Regions from separate parts of the Homo sapiens genome. Here regions 2 and 3 are each linked to region 1. Evidence: fine-mapped expression QTL. A gene starts in region 1. Each other region holds a variant in brackets. All regions are shown on one strand. Distances are between the middles of the regions.

Region 1 (4,362 bases):
CTTCTACATCAAATTACATCCTTTTCACAAATCCCCATTTCTGTAATAACTGGTGCAAACCTAAAGGTGCTTTATAGTTTTACTACTTTGCAGATTTGCAATGCTGCATATAATGCAGAAGAGCATTAAAAACTTTTGTAAAAACTCATGATTTTGATAAACTTTTAAAGTAGCGTTTATATGTAAATAGAACTACACATGGCACACACACTTGCACAAGGGCTTCAGAAAAACGTGCAATATAGGTGAGAAAAATGTCTATTGAAACTTTCTCACAGGCTGCCCTTATAATTAAACTAGTGTTGGGGCAAGCAACATCTGTTTCAAGTAGATCAGGGACTAGCAAACCTAAAAGGCAGCAAGCAGCCTGCAGTTTGCTCAATCCTTAAGAATACATGGTTCATACAACATGCTTTTACTATGTCTTAAGTGTGACTTTTGAAAGATACAAGTGTTCTGTGCATATTTGTGTAAATAAATACATAATTTTCCACCTTGTATAACTGCCTTAAATTTTTGTATGGTTTAAAAAGAGTCTGCTGTCTCCCTTGGGGGTAGCCTGGTAATTTTTATATTTTACATTTTTCACAAAGGCTGCAATTACCTTAGAACTGTACTCACACTACTTCCACATGAGCGTGTAACACTAAATAGGAGGTATTATGCTATTAACTACCTTTCCGTCTATTAATCACTCAGTCAAGGAACAATGAGTAGCCACATGAATTAAGCATTTTATTTAATTATCACGGACCACCTTAAATATTACTTTACAAAATTCAGGCCTATATTTAAAATAGGTGTCCTGATAACTTCCAGGATATTATTCGGAACACCCGTTTCCCCAACTACGATAAGTCCATTGCCGGATGCTGAATAAACTTCGCCCATTACCACTTGGATTTCTTGATAGTCTGCAAGAGAAAAAAAGCATTATAAAACTCCGAGCTGTGTACTTACCTCACTGTTTTGAGATCTTATCAGCTAATTCAGTTGGTTGTTAACTCAAACTACAAAAGCCAGCAAAACGGGCCAACTTTAGCTTTCCAACGTCCTGCCGCTAAGGCGTTTCAGATTAACTCAGAAATATCAAAAAAGAAATGTACCTTATGTTTCCATCATCCATCGTAATGTGTTCAGCTCAGCTTCCTAGAAACATTGAACAACGGTTTAGAAATTTTGCCCAATAACCCGGCACCCTCTAGGTTTTTAACAGTGAATGTTACTTGTGCAAGTCAGAATCTGATACCAATTAAATGGTGACAGCTTTGCCAATAAACAAGGATATGCTCTTCCATGGCTAGGAAGGGAGACTGCCACGGCTGACAGGTCCCAAAGATACATGGAGATTCACAATCCAGAATTAACCAGCAACCAAACTGCTACAGGTTATTACTCACCATCTGGCTCAAACTGACGGTTCTCGGGGTGCTAGGGCACAAGAGCGACAGAGTAGACTCAAGATGGCCACATGACACAGACGGCTGAACAGGCTTCACCGGAGTCCCCGAGTGCACGGAACCTTTCCCCGAGGGCCCACGGCCCACGCACGCCGGGGTTCAGGGTCCAGGGCTGCACGTGGACGCCCGGCGACCTAATGAGCACTCAAGTCCGCGCATGCTTGTAAACTTAAGGGTTTCCAAAGCCGCCCCCGACCTACCAATATCCTGACTGCGCTGCCTTTTAGGTAAGGCAGTAAGTTTCGGCCCAATTATCATTTTAACTTACGAAAGACAACTACGTACTTTCACCTAATCCCGACGCTTCCCGAATGTGAAAGGCCGAGGCCTTCGGCACACGCTCTCTTATAGAACTGATGACGCTATTCCGGGGGAAGCGCCGCGAGGGGCGGAGCCTATGCTGTTTCACTCCCCGCCCCGCCTAGCCCCGCCGCGGCTCCACCTGTTCCGTCTACCACCCCCTTCGCGGCTCCTTTCCCCCCTCCCCCGCACATGGTCCACGTCTGAGCGGGTCACCTGGCTCCGGATCCAGACGCATGCGCACATACGAGAGCCAAAAGGTTCTCGCATAGCGAAAGATCCTGACGCTTACCGGTGTAGGTCACGAAAGCGAGGGGGATTTTTTTGGTATTTCCTGTTTAGGATACTTATTTTAGACAATATTAGAAAAAGGGGCCGAACGCGGTGGCTCACGTCTGTGATCCCAGCACTTTGGGAGGCCGAGGCGGGCGGATCACTTGAGGTTAGGAGTTGGAGACCAGCCTGGCTAACATGGCGAAACCCCGTTTCTACTAAAAATACAAAAATTAGCCTGGTGTGGTGGTGAACGCCTGTAGTCCCGGCTACTCGGGAGGTTGAGGTGGGAGAATCTCTTGAGCCCGAGAGGCGGAAGTTATGGTGAGCTGAGATCGCTGGTTAGCATTTTACAAATTACCTAATCACTACTCAAAAACAAGAAAAGTCTGAGAAACTATTATGCCAGAGAAAATGATGCATAATGATTAAATGTAATGTGGTATCCTGGCTGGGATCTCCAGCAGAAAAAGGACATTAATGGAAAACTAGCGAATCTGAACAAAGTGTGGAATTTAGGTAATAGTGCCAATACCGATTTCTTTATTGTGACAGATATACCATGGTATTGTAAGATATTAATGGTAGGGGAAATTGGATGAAGGGGGTGTGGGGACTCCATTTTTGCAAATTTTCTGTAAATGTAAAACAAAGTTTAACTTAAAAAAGCAATTATAACCTTACAGTCTATTATACTTTCATTTTAAGACAAAGTAGTGATTTAGTAGTGGTTTCTATCTACTTTAGTGTGAAATTTGTGGCTGAGATGACAGTATTTCTAAGTTTGACTTGAGATCAAACCCAATGAATTTAGCTGCATTCAAACCAAGGCTTTGAGCCTTTGGATATTCAGGAGAGACAATGTGGTAACAAATAAAAGAATTAAAAATTGGTTGGTAAATGAAGATTGGCTTAAGGATTTTATTTTATGTATTTATTTATTTAGAAACATTCTTGCTCTGTTGCCTAGCCTGGAGTGCAGTGGCATGATCTTGGCTCAGTGCAACCTCCACCTCCTAGGCTCAAGCGAGCCTCCTGCTAGGCGTGTGCCACCACTTGGCTACTTTTTTTTTAAGGTTTTTTTTTTTTGAAAGACAAGCCCTCACTATATTGCCCTCAGGCTGATCTCCTGTGCTCCTGGGCTCAAGTAATCCTCTTTCCTCGGCCTCCCAAAGTGCTAGGATTGCAGGTGCAAGCCACTGCGCCCAGCCTAAGGATTTTAAAGATAGAATGCAAGGTGAACCTGTTAGAACTGATCAAATGATGGCTAGGTAACATTTCAGTTCTGCTTTTGATACATGGAGTGAACAGTTCATTATAGAATATTTATTCTTCAACAATGCTTTTCCCTGCACTATATCTTTTTTCCTTTTGTGGTTTAGTGTTGAAACTGGTAGTCATCAGAAAAATTTAACATAGAATGGCACATCTGTCATATGAATGCTGAGATGAATAGGAGAAAATATAGTGAGGAAATAACCTGTGGACTTATTTCTATCTTAAAACACTTAGCAAATCTAAACTTCCAGTGTATACTAGCAGCGTGATACTTCTGCTGTAAAAATTGGTTTTGCTGCAGTAATAAAAGTATAGTGTATTGCAGTATGATCTAGTGTTAAAAAAAAAGCATAGTGTCCAAAAGAGAGGAGATGGACGTTCCCTCCTATCTATATTAAAATATTCTTGTCAGTTCTGAACATCTTGTTCAGTTGTTAAACATTTACTAGACTCCAGCAAATGTTTATTGAGCAGACATGGCCTTTGCCTCAAGACTTGAGAATATAATTGAGTAACTTACAGTTAGTGCCATTACAATGTTTTCCAAATCATTCAAAGTTCAAAGCAAAGAAATTAGTTCTTATTTTTCCCTATCCTTTATTTTCAGTATTTGATATATTTTTGTATCAACCAATGTATTAGTTATCGATTGCTGTATATCAAATTAGCCTAAAGCCTAGTAGCTTAAAAAAAAATAAGCACTTACTATCTCAAATAGTTTTTGTTGGTCAGGAATCTAAGAGCAGCTTAACTGGCTCAGTGTATCTTGTGAGGTTGCAGTCAGGATGTTGACTGGCATTGCAGCCATCTGAAGGCTTGACTGGGGCTGGTGCGGCAGGATTCTCTTTCAAGGTGGCTCATTCACAGACCTGACAAGTTAATGCTCATTGTTGGCAGGAAGCCTCAATTCCTCAGCATGTGAATCTCTCCATAGGGCTGCTTGACTGTCCTCATGATTCTCGTGGCAGCTGGCTTTCCTCAGAGTGAGTGACTCAAGAGAGGAAGCTCCAACACTTTTTATTGTGGCCTACACACCATCACTTGTTAGAAG
Region 2 (4,362 bases), 56 kb before region 1:
AGGATGAACGAAGGAGTAAGGCCAGAGCCTATAAAGTGTTATGGTGCTTGGAAATGTTAATTACTGATTTTATCATGAATACTTAGTCTGGCAAACAGACAATTGGCAAGTGGGCAGGTCACAAAGAATGATGATTTCATGCTTTTTCCTTTGAGGGGCAAGAGATGTAATAAATTTGTAGGCTGATGTCAATGTCTTCCTTTATATACATACCTATTTGTGCTTTTATTACCCCGGAAAATCAGAAAGGAATAAAATTTTCTGTGAGATACAAAGAAACAAGAACGCTATAGTGGAGGTGTGAACTACTGTGTGGTTTATTAGTCTTTTGATTGATGAAAGTATGTAAACTATTATTCTGCAAACAAACTTCAGATAAGCTGATCCAGCTGCTTATATAGTATCATCTCTCAGTAGTCCATTTAAAAAAAAAAGGAATTGCACGATAAAATCAGAGAAACCCAGCTTTATTGCTGTGAAGACACATTTACATTTTAGATATACCCCAAATATTTACAGTTTGGTTGATGGAATGCTGCAGCATGGAGACAGTTGTAGAGATTACCATGTTAATCAGATAAGCATTTCACCTTTTTTAAAATTTAATGCCAGTTTGTACACAGCAGAGGTTACTTACAAAAATATGTGGATTAGATGAGCTAAAAGCAGAACCCGTCTGTATGCTATTATTTTCATTTTTTCTTTTAAAAATACTCTCCTGGTGTTAGGAAAGAGATGCATGTTGCTATGTTATTAATTGGTTTCAAAGGCTTGCTAGCAAATACTATATACAGTGTAAGGTTTTAAAAATTATAAATGGATTGCCTCCCGTGATATTATTGTGCTTAGATGTAGTAATAATAATTTTGAAAATGCTAGCCTAGAATGTTAGAGTCAGAAAGAATCTTCAAGCATCCAGATTTTTCTTTTGACACATTAGAAGACAAAGCCTTCGAGTTACTTGCAGCTTGGCATGACTTTTAGCTGAGCCCAGACTGGAGTCCAAGCCTCACTGAAGCTCGTGACACACCTCTTGCACACAGCCTTACTTTTTATGTCTGCAGTACTTGGCCATTTTCTTCTAAATCAGTCATTGGTGGTAAAGGCACATAAAGTAGTTATTTAAGATTGATGAAAAGAATTCCATAAGTAGGCAAACCACGTTGTGATCTGATGTTTTGATTTCCTTGAAACTGATGTAGTCTTTTGTGTTTTTCTTCTTTCTTTCTTTGTTTCTTCCATATTCATCTTTGTTGATTTCTTCCATTTTTTTTCAAATCCAAATGTTTTGATAAAAAGTTTTGCCTACATTTGATAAACCTAATATCGCTCATTGTACTTCCAGAGGAAAAGGAATAGCAAAACAAACCCCGTTTTCTGGACTGGGCCTTATTCCCATTTATTGGAGCAATGTCCGTTGCCGAGGAGATGAAGAAAATATACTGCTTTGTGAAAAAGACATCTGGCAGGGTGGGGTGTGTCCTCAGAAGATGGCAGCTGCTGTCACGTGTAGCTTTTCCCATGGTAAAAAAAAGAAAAAAGTTCTGTTGTTTTACTTTCATTATGTTTTAAACGTGATTCCAGATGATGAAAGTGTCTTAGTTATAATCATTTCCTTAAAGACTTTAATTACAGAAATAAGTCTGAGTCAAAATATTTTACCATCTAATTAGTCTTCAATATGAGTACTGTTAATTTGAATTCCATTTGATTTTCCAGTGGTATCTCATTTTTAACATATTTTCTATTTTATATAATTTGCTTAAATAAATATGTATATTCTATAGGTTATATATATACTGTATAATATATTGTATATGAAACACATATTTTAGTCATGGAAAATTATGATGGAATCAAGCTGGAAAATAATCATGAAAGTAAATATAGAATACAGCAAATACAACAAAATATTTTCACTTTGTGTAATGCAATATAATTATGGCATCAGTGTTCTTGGGGCTGTAGAGAGCACCTTCCCTAAAAATGGATTGTTGGCTTGAATGAGGGCTTCTTCCAAGTTCCATAGAGTAGGTATGTGGTAATTATCAGTATGGGTTCAGTGTACAGATATGTTTATATTCATGGAAGTAGAGGAAGGAACAACTGCCTTTAAGATGGTGAAAGAGTTTTCTGGGTACCATGGTGTATTTTAATGAATGATCACAACCTGAAGCCACCATACTCTCATGGTATCCCTTTTTGCATTTTCCTTGGTGATAGCAGCATGACCAGATATCCCAGGACTTGGAATGGTAGCAGTCAGCCCAGGGCAGTGGTTTTTGTTTGAGTACAAGTATCAGGGGGAAGAATAAGGAAGCTCCT[A/G]CCACAAAACAGAGAGACCCATTTTGGAGTAATTCCTCTGGATTGGCTGGAAGAGCCAATGGAGGGATATAGTCCAGGTGTATACTCTGAGAGCTATAATCCTTTTTTTTTTGACTGGGAGAGGCATATGTTAAACCTTGATGTCTTGTAAGTTTTCCCTTTTCTTCTTTTGGTTCTCTACCTTTGGGTAATGCTACTTTTGCTAAATCCAATGCTGCTTCAAGGATGATGTGAACTGGGCCCAATAATTTATTGCTGTTTGTAGATTATTGGTTTTACTCTATGCTCAACCTGATTGATAAAATGTTTTTCAAGTAGTAAAGTAAAAAATTTTAAAAATAATTATAATTTTTTTTCAGGATATCTATCTACATTTTTTACTCCTTCCACCTTCTATAATCTATTCATCTGTTTATATTCTGGTTGCAAAGATAATTTTATGGTCATCTATAAACATATATAAAATATAGAAAGTTATGATAAATTAGAAGTGAGAATTTAAAAAGATTCTCTCGTGGTAGATTAAATGAGAATGTGGAGTTGTATAGCTGAAATCAGCGAACATTGAGTTCACCTTAAGGGATAGTGATAGATCTTTAGTATACTTCCCTTAAATTTGGGAATTACACTTAGTGTCTTGTCATTCTGTACTTGTAGCTTTTCCAACATTTCAAAGTAGAAGATTGCATGCAACTTGGATACAAAAAATAGCAGCAATCTAAATGAAAACGTGGGGAGTTTAATTATCTATAAGCTAAATATGAGTCCATTGATTTACTGAATTTTCTTTCAAATGAGTTTTGTGTTTGTTGGAAGGATGGGGCTGTTAACTAAATCTTGTCCTTGTGCTTTTCTGTATTTTTTATATTTTAACAGTCATCCAAAAAGAAAAAGAAACCACATTTTAAAATAAAACACAACATAGGAAAGTGAAAGGTGGTTATGCCATAAACTGTCTAGGTCCTAGATGGTTTTCAACTTTCTCTTAAAAATTTTTGTTTTTCTGTTTTCTCCAAGCTTAACAGGTGGGGAAAAATATATTAAGAAATGTATACATGTTTTTCTGTATTTTGTAAGCTTTTTAAAGGAAAAATAAACATCATAATTTGTGAGAATTATATTACCATCATTCAGCCATATATATTAAACCTGTCTTTATCCATTAACAAATTGTAAGTGCTAGTTAACTTATGCAAGTAAACAGTATATGCAGATAGTCACTAATCTAAATTTCTGCTACAAAACTCAAATATGAGTGCTTACTTTGGCAGCACGTGTACAAAACTCAAATATGATATTTGAATTTAAGTGTGAATATCCAAATGCCGTTTACTGACTGCTACAACTGTGGAAAATTAGAAACATATTTCATACAGATAAATGATTAGTATTTGGCAAAAAGTACAACTAGACTTCATATTAGAGGACCAACCTGTTAATTTTTACCATATTACGTCCTTTATTCTAGTAAAATTAGACTGCTTTACTCTTTGCCAGACACATTCAGCTTTGTGCTTCTTTCTTTTGTTCATAATGTTCAAGTGGCCTGAACATGCTTCCCTCATCTCTGACTTCCAAATCCCATCTATCTTGGCCCTCTTAAAAAAACAGCTTTTTCACAAGTGATTCCCTAAGTACCCCCAACCATGAGTAAGGTCCTTTGCTTCTGAACCACTGTAGGGTTTTTTGATAATCTCTTGTCTGTACTCCTTTTATCGACGCCCTTAGGCAGTAAACTTCCTGAGGGCCGGGTCTGTCTGGTGTCTCTTCGAATGCCCTGCAGCACTGATCATAACACCTTGTACAAGGCATATGTCTGATATCTGTTTGTTAATCAGAAATTAATGAATAGATGTTGCCAATTATTTTTTCTTGTTTGGAGTGTCTTTTCTAGGTTTATTTAGCATTGCTTGTCAGTTGAGGCAGTCAATAAATAATTATTATATGCCTCTGTATACTAGGTACCTGAAATACATAGGTGTAAAGGAACACAGTATTTCTGTCCTCATTCTAGCCAAGAGGAGTGAGACAATTGAC
Region 3 (4,000 bases), 46 kb after region 1:
CCTGGCCACTGTCGATGGTTTCTTGATTTTCCAGCTGTTATGTAACACCACACAATTAATCAATATCAAACCCTGAACTGAAAAATTGGCAGTGAAATATATAACAATTAGAATATATGTAAATCCTAGTAGGTGCTCAAATTATACTCAATCCATTTCTTTTCCTTTCCATTCGGACTTCTCATAAGCAGCTCCTCAGGGGGCTGATAATTATAAAATTGAGATCATGCAGTTTGACAAGAGATATATATGACTATGCTAAAATACATGCAAAATATATTTATGCTGCAGAATTATTATAATTCACTCCTTTATACCACCCTCTGTTCAGCATTATACCTTCATAGCAAGACCTTCAGAGACATTTTATGGTTAACATGTTAGTTTGTACCATCTATCTCTACTACATTACTGTATTTTGTGTATTCTGACATTTTTAGTTTTTAAGTGTTTGTTCAGATGGTTGATATATTTCTAATTTTGATTCAAAGGCAAGAATTAAATTCTGTGTATTGTTGATAGTTTTTTTTATAGCTTTGATTACTCATGTAATATACAAACATTTCTAGTTTTATTTATTTATTTTTCCTTTTATGTGACAAAGAAAATAGAAAATTACATATGTTGGCTGTAGCATCACTTCATAAAAAGTGCACAAGAAGAAAAATATATGAAAATTTTTTTTCCTTACGAGTAGAAAGGAATTAAATTTCTGAATATTATGCTATTCTTCTGACTTAATATCTATAATTACCATCAAAGAAAATTAATGCCAATTGAAATTACATGTGATCCTCTTGGTATAACAAGTCTCTTTATAAACTGAGAAGAGTTTGTTCTGAAAAATTTCTGAGCCCCTTTATGATATTCAATCAATTTCCAAGGCACAGAGGTTAAATTTTATTTGTGACTACAAACTTAGATGTTTCTAAATATTAGTGCTAAGTTTATACTGTGCACAGTACATATACTTTTAGATTTATACTAATAACCCATCTTACCAATCAATCCCCCTGTGGTAGTTATTTCTATTAAAGAACTGTACCTCCTCAAAGGTTTTTGGGCTGGGGGAGTTACTAAGGATGGAAGGATGCATAACCAGGAACAAATACAAAGCAGTGGTACCTAGAAAGACAATAGAGGTTCAGAAATTAATTAAATGAAAACACAATTTCCTATGATCAACACTTTAAAGTCATGAATAAATATTAGAATGATCCAAACAGATTTATTACAACTACTGCTGGAAATAAATTGAATAGATAATCGGCAGTTTAATAGAAGCAGGTTCTAAAAAATGGAGATAGTGTGGTGTGAAAAGAGGCCTGTTGCAGGGATTGAGAGAACTGGCTTTCAATCTCAGCTCAATGACTGATTTGTCTGTGACTTTGTCTTTTAGCTTCTGTTTGTCTCAGTTTTCTTTTTATCTTTTCTTTCTTTCTTTGTTTCTTTCCTTTTCTTTTCTTTCTTTCCTTCTTTCTCTCTCTTTCTTTCTTTTTTTTTCAGCATCTTACTATATTGCCCAGGCTGGAGTGTGGTGGTGCAATCATGGCTCACTACAACCTTGACACCAGGCTCGTGGGATCCTCCTGTCTGAGCCTCCCAAGTAGCTGTGACTACAGAGATGCACCACTGTGCCGGGCTAATTTTTAATTTTTTTT[A/T]AATTTTTAGTAGAAATGAGGTCTCACTGTGTTGCTCAGGCTAGTCTTGAACACTTGAGCTCATGCAATCCTTCCACCTTGGCCCCCTAAAGTGCTGGGATTACAGGAGTGAGTCACCTCTCCTGACCTGTCTCAGCTTTCTTAATGGAAAATCACCTGCCTACTTATTTCATAGATTTTCTCTGAGAATGAAAGAACATGTACTTGAAGACATTTTGACGGTAATAAGGCACTATATAAATGAAATATATTATTATTTAACATATTACATTACCAAAATCAATACTTGGGTTCTCATATTAAGTTCTTCCAGAGGCCTATGAAAGCTAATTAAACTCAAGACAGAATTTAATCTTTCCACAAGTTTGCTTAAGCTTCAATGTACTTAGTAGTGTCAAAAATTGTTTAAATTGCTAAATTGGAAAAAAAAATGGTGCCCTTTCTTAGCGACATAACTTATAGAATTTGCATTTACTAGGGAAGAGAATGGTGTATCACAGGTACGTATATATATTTGTGACTATTGGGGAGCAAGGGTGTGATTTTTCAAAAAGTGAGCAATGTCATAAACTGTACAGTTAGGGTTTTATAAGACTAAATGAGGAGATAAAGGGTGTAGCTTAGTCAGATTGGTACAAGAGAAAGTAAGGCAGTTTGGGTTCAGTTTGTCAAAGATTTAGCCATGTATTTAATACTTGTAACTGTGACTGTGTTTAAAAGATCATAATATAAAAGTATTTCTATATATTGGCTACTCCTAAGAGAGAAATATACTATTATTTACACTGTTATACAATCTGTGGAGCAGGACTTGATAATTATATTCCAAGTCAATAGCTAGCAATAGTAACAAGACATGGCCTTATAATATTTCTCTCACTTGGAGAAATTACTCTAATTATGCTTAGTAATTATGTCATGTTGCCATTTGTACAAAACTTTGAATTTTCTTATTTTTCAGGTAAGCTTTCTTTATTATTTATTTACTTAAATGGTATTAATATGGTATTATTAATAGTACTAATTAAATAATAGTAGTATAAATAGTATTAAGATGATAGTATAGTATTTACTTAAATAGCATTAATATGCTAGTATTTACTTAAATAGTATTATTATTATTATTTATTTATTTTTTTTTAGATGGAGTCTTGCTCTGTTGCCCAGGCTGGAGTGCAGTGGCACGATCTGGGCTCACTGCAACCTCTGCCTCCTGGGCTCAAGCGATTCTCATGCCTCAGCCTCACAAGCAGCTGGGATTACAGGCACCTGCCACCATGCCCAGCTAATTTTTGTATTTTTAGTAGAGACGGGGTTTCACCATGTTGGCCAGGCTGGTCTCGAACTCCTGACCTCAGGTGATCCGCCCACCTCAGCCTCCCAAAGTGCTGGGATCACAGGCATGAGCCACTGTGCCCCGCCCTTAAATAGTATTAATATGGAAGTAAGGTAGTATTTTAGTGTTTATTTACTTAAATGGTACAAATATGGCAATATTTAAGTAAATAAATACTATTTAAGTATTTATAAATTAAGCTTTCTTTAATATTTACTTAAATCTACCATATCTATACAATAGAAAAATTGTTAAAATAACTCTGTCAACAGCAATATTGTCTTAAAAAATGAATTGAAAGAGGTAGTCTTCCTAGATTATATCTGAGCCAAACAATGAACAGTTTGTCTGTAATCATAGATCATTATAGGGAATAAAACAGTAATCTATGATATACAAAGTAAAAATGTGCTTCACAAGCTTGCCTTAAAACAGTGGTCCTCTAACTAGCATGTATCAGATTCATCTGGGGGCTTGTTAAAACATAGCACAGCCCTATCCCAGTATCTCTGATTCGGTAAGTCTTTGTTATAACCCAAGAATTTCACTTCTTTTTTTTTTTTTTGAAACGGAGTCTCGCTCTGTTGCCCAGGCTAGAGTGCAGCGGCGTGATCTCGGCTCACTGCAAGCTCCGCCCGCCGGGTTCACGCCATTCTCCTTCCTCAGCCTCTTGAGTAGCTGGGACTACAGGCGCCCGCCACCGCACCCGGCTAAATTTTTGTATTTTTAGTGGAGACGGGATTTCACCGTGTTAGCCAGGATGGTCTCGATCTCCTGACCTCTCATGATCTGCCCGCCTCGGCCTCCCAAAGTGCTGGGATTACAGGCGTGAGCCACCGTGCCTGGCCTGCACTTCTAATAAATTTTCTGGTGATGCTTATGTTGCTGCTCTGGCAACCACCCTTGAGAATCACTGACTTAGAATAACTATGAAGCAATATCTAAAATTTATTGGAGGAAAAAAGCTCCATTACATGAAATCCACGGTAAAGTAGAAAAAGCA

Which allele goes with the higher level. Positions count from the first base shown, and alleles are read on the strand shown. Sizes are in standard deviations (SD) of each study's normalised expression. Not every link is listed here.
As copies of G replace A in region 2, the expression in cerebellar hemisphere of the gene that starts at base 1,776 in region 1 goes down (small effect, 0.31 SD a copy in GTEx).

The links.
Region 2: its variant is fine-mapped to the expression of SNHG8 in cerebellar hemisphere (GTEx, PIP 0.96).
Region 3: its variant is fine-mapped to the expression of SNHG8 in whole blood (INTERVAL, PIP 0.93).

Annotation. Positions count from the first base shown.
Region 1 is chr4:118,276,176-118,280,537 of GRCh38, reverse strand. SNHG8 (small nucleolar RNA host gene 8) reads right to left here and starts at 1,776. Exons shown (of 3, transcript NR_034011.1): 1 at 1,746-1,776; 2 at 1,107-1,149; 3 at 715-914. It overlaps PRSS12 (serine protease 12), which reads left to right. Exons shown (of 13, transcript NM_003619.4): 13 at 1-500. SNORA24 (small nucleolar RNA, H/ACA box 24) reads right to left here and starts at 1,348; the gene lies at 1,218-1,348. RefSeq lists a silencer at 1,949-1,998 and an enhancer at 2,069-2,248.
Region 2 is chr4:118,332,635-118,336,996 of GRCh38, reverse strand. It overlaps PRSS12 (serine protease 12), which reads left to right. Exons shown (of 13, transcript NM_003619.4): 3 at 1,346-1,524. Among named protein-coding and RNA genes, the nearest start is that of PRSS12, 18 kb to the left of the region's middle. The variant A/G (reference allele first, on the strand shown) is at 2,326.
Region 3 is chr4:118,230,137-118,234,136 of GRCh38, reverse strand. It overlaps NDST3 (N-deacetylase and N-sulfotransferase 3), which reads right to left. Exons shown (of 14, transcript NM_004784.3): 9 at 1,002-1,125. Among named protein-coding and RNA genes, the nearest start is that of SNHG8, 47 kb to the left of the region's middle. The variant A/T (reference allele first, on the strand shown) is at 1,662.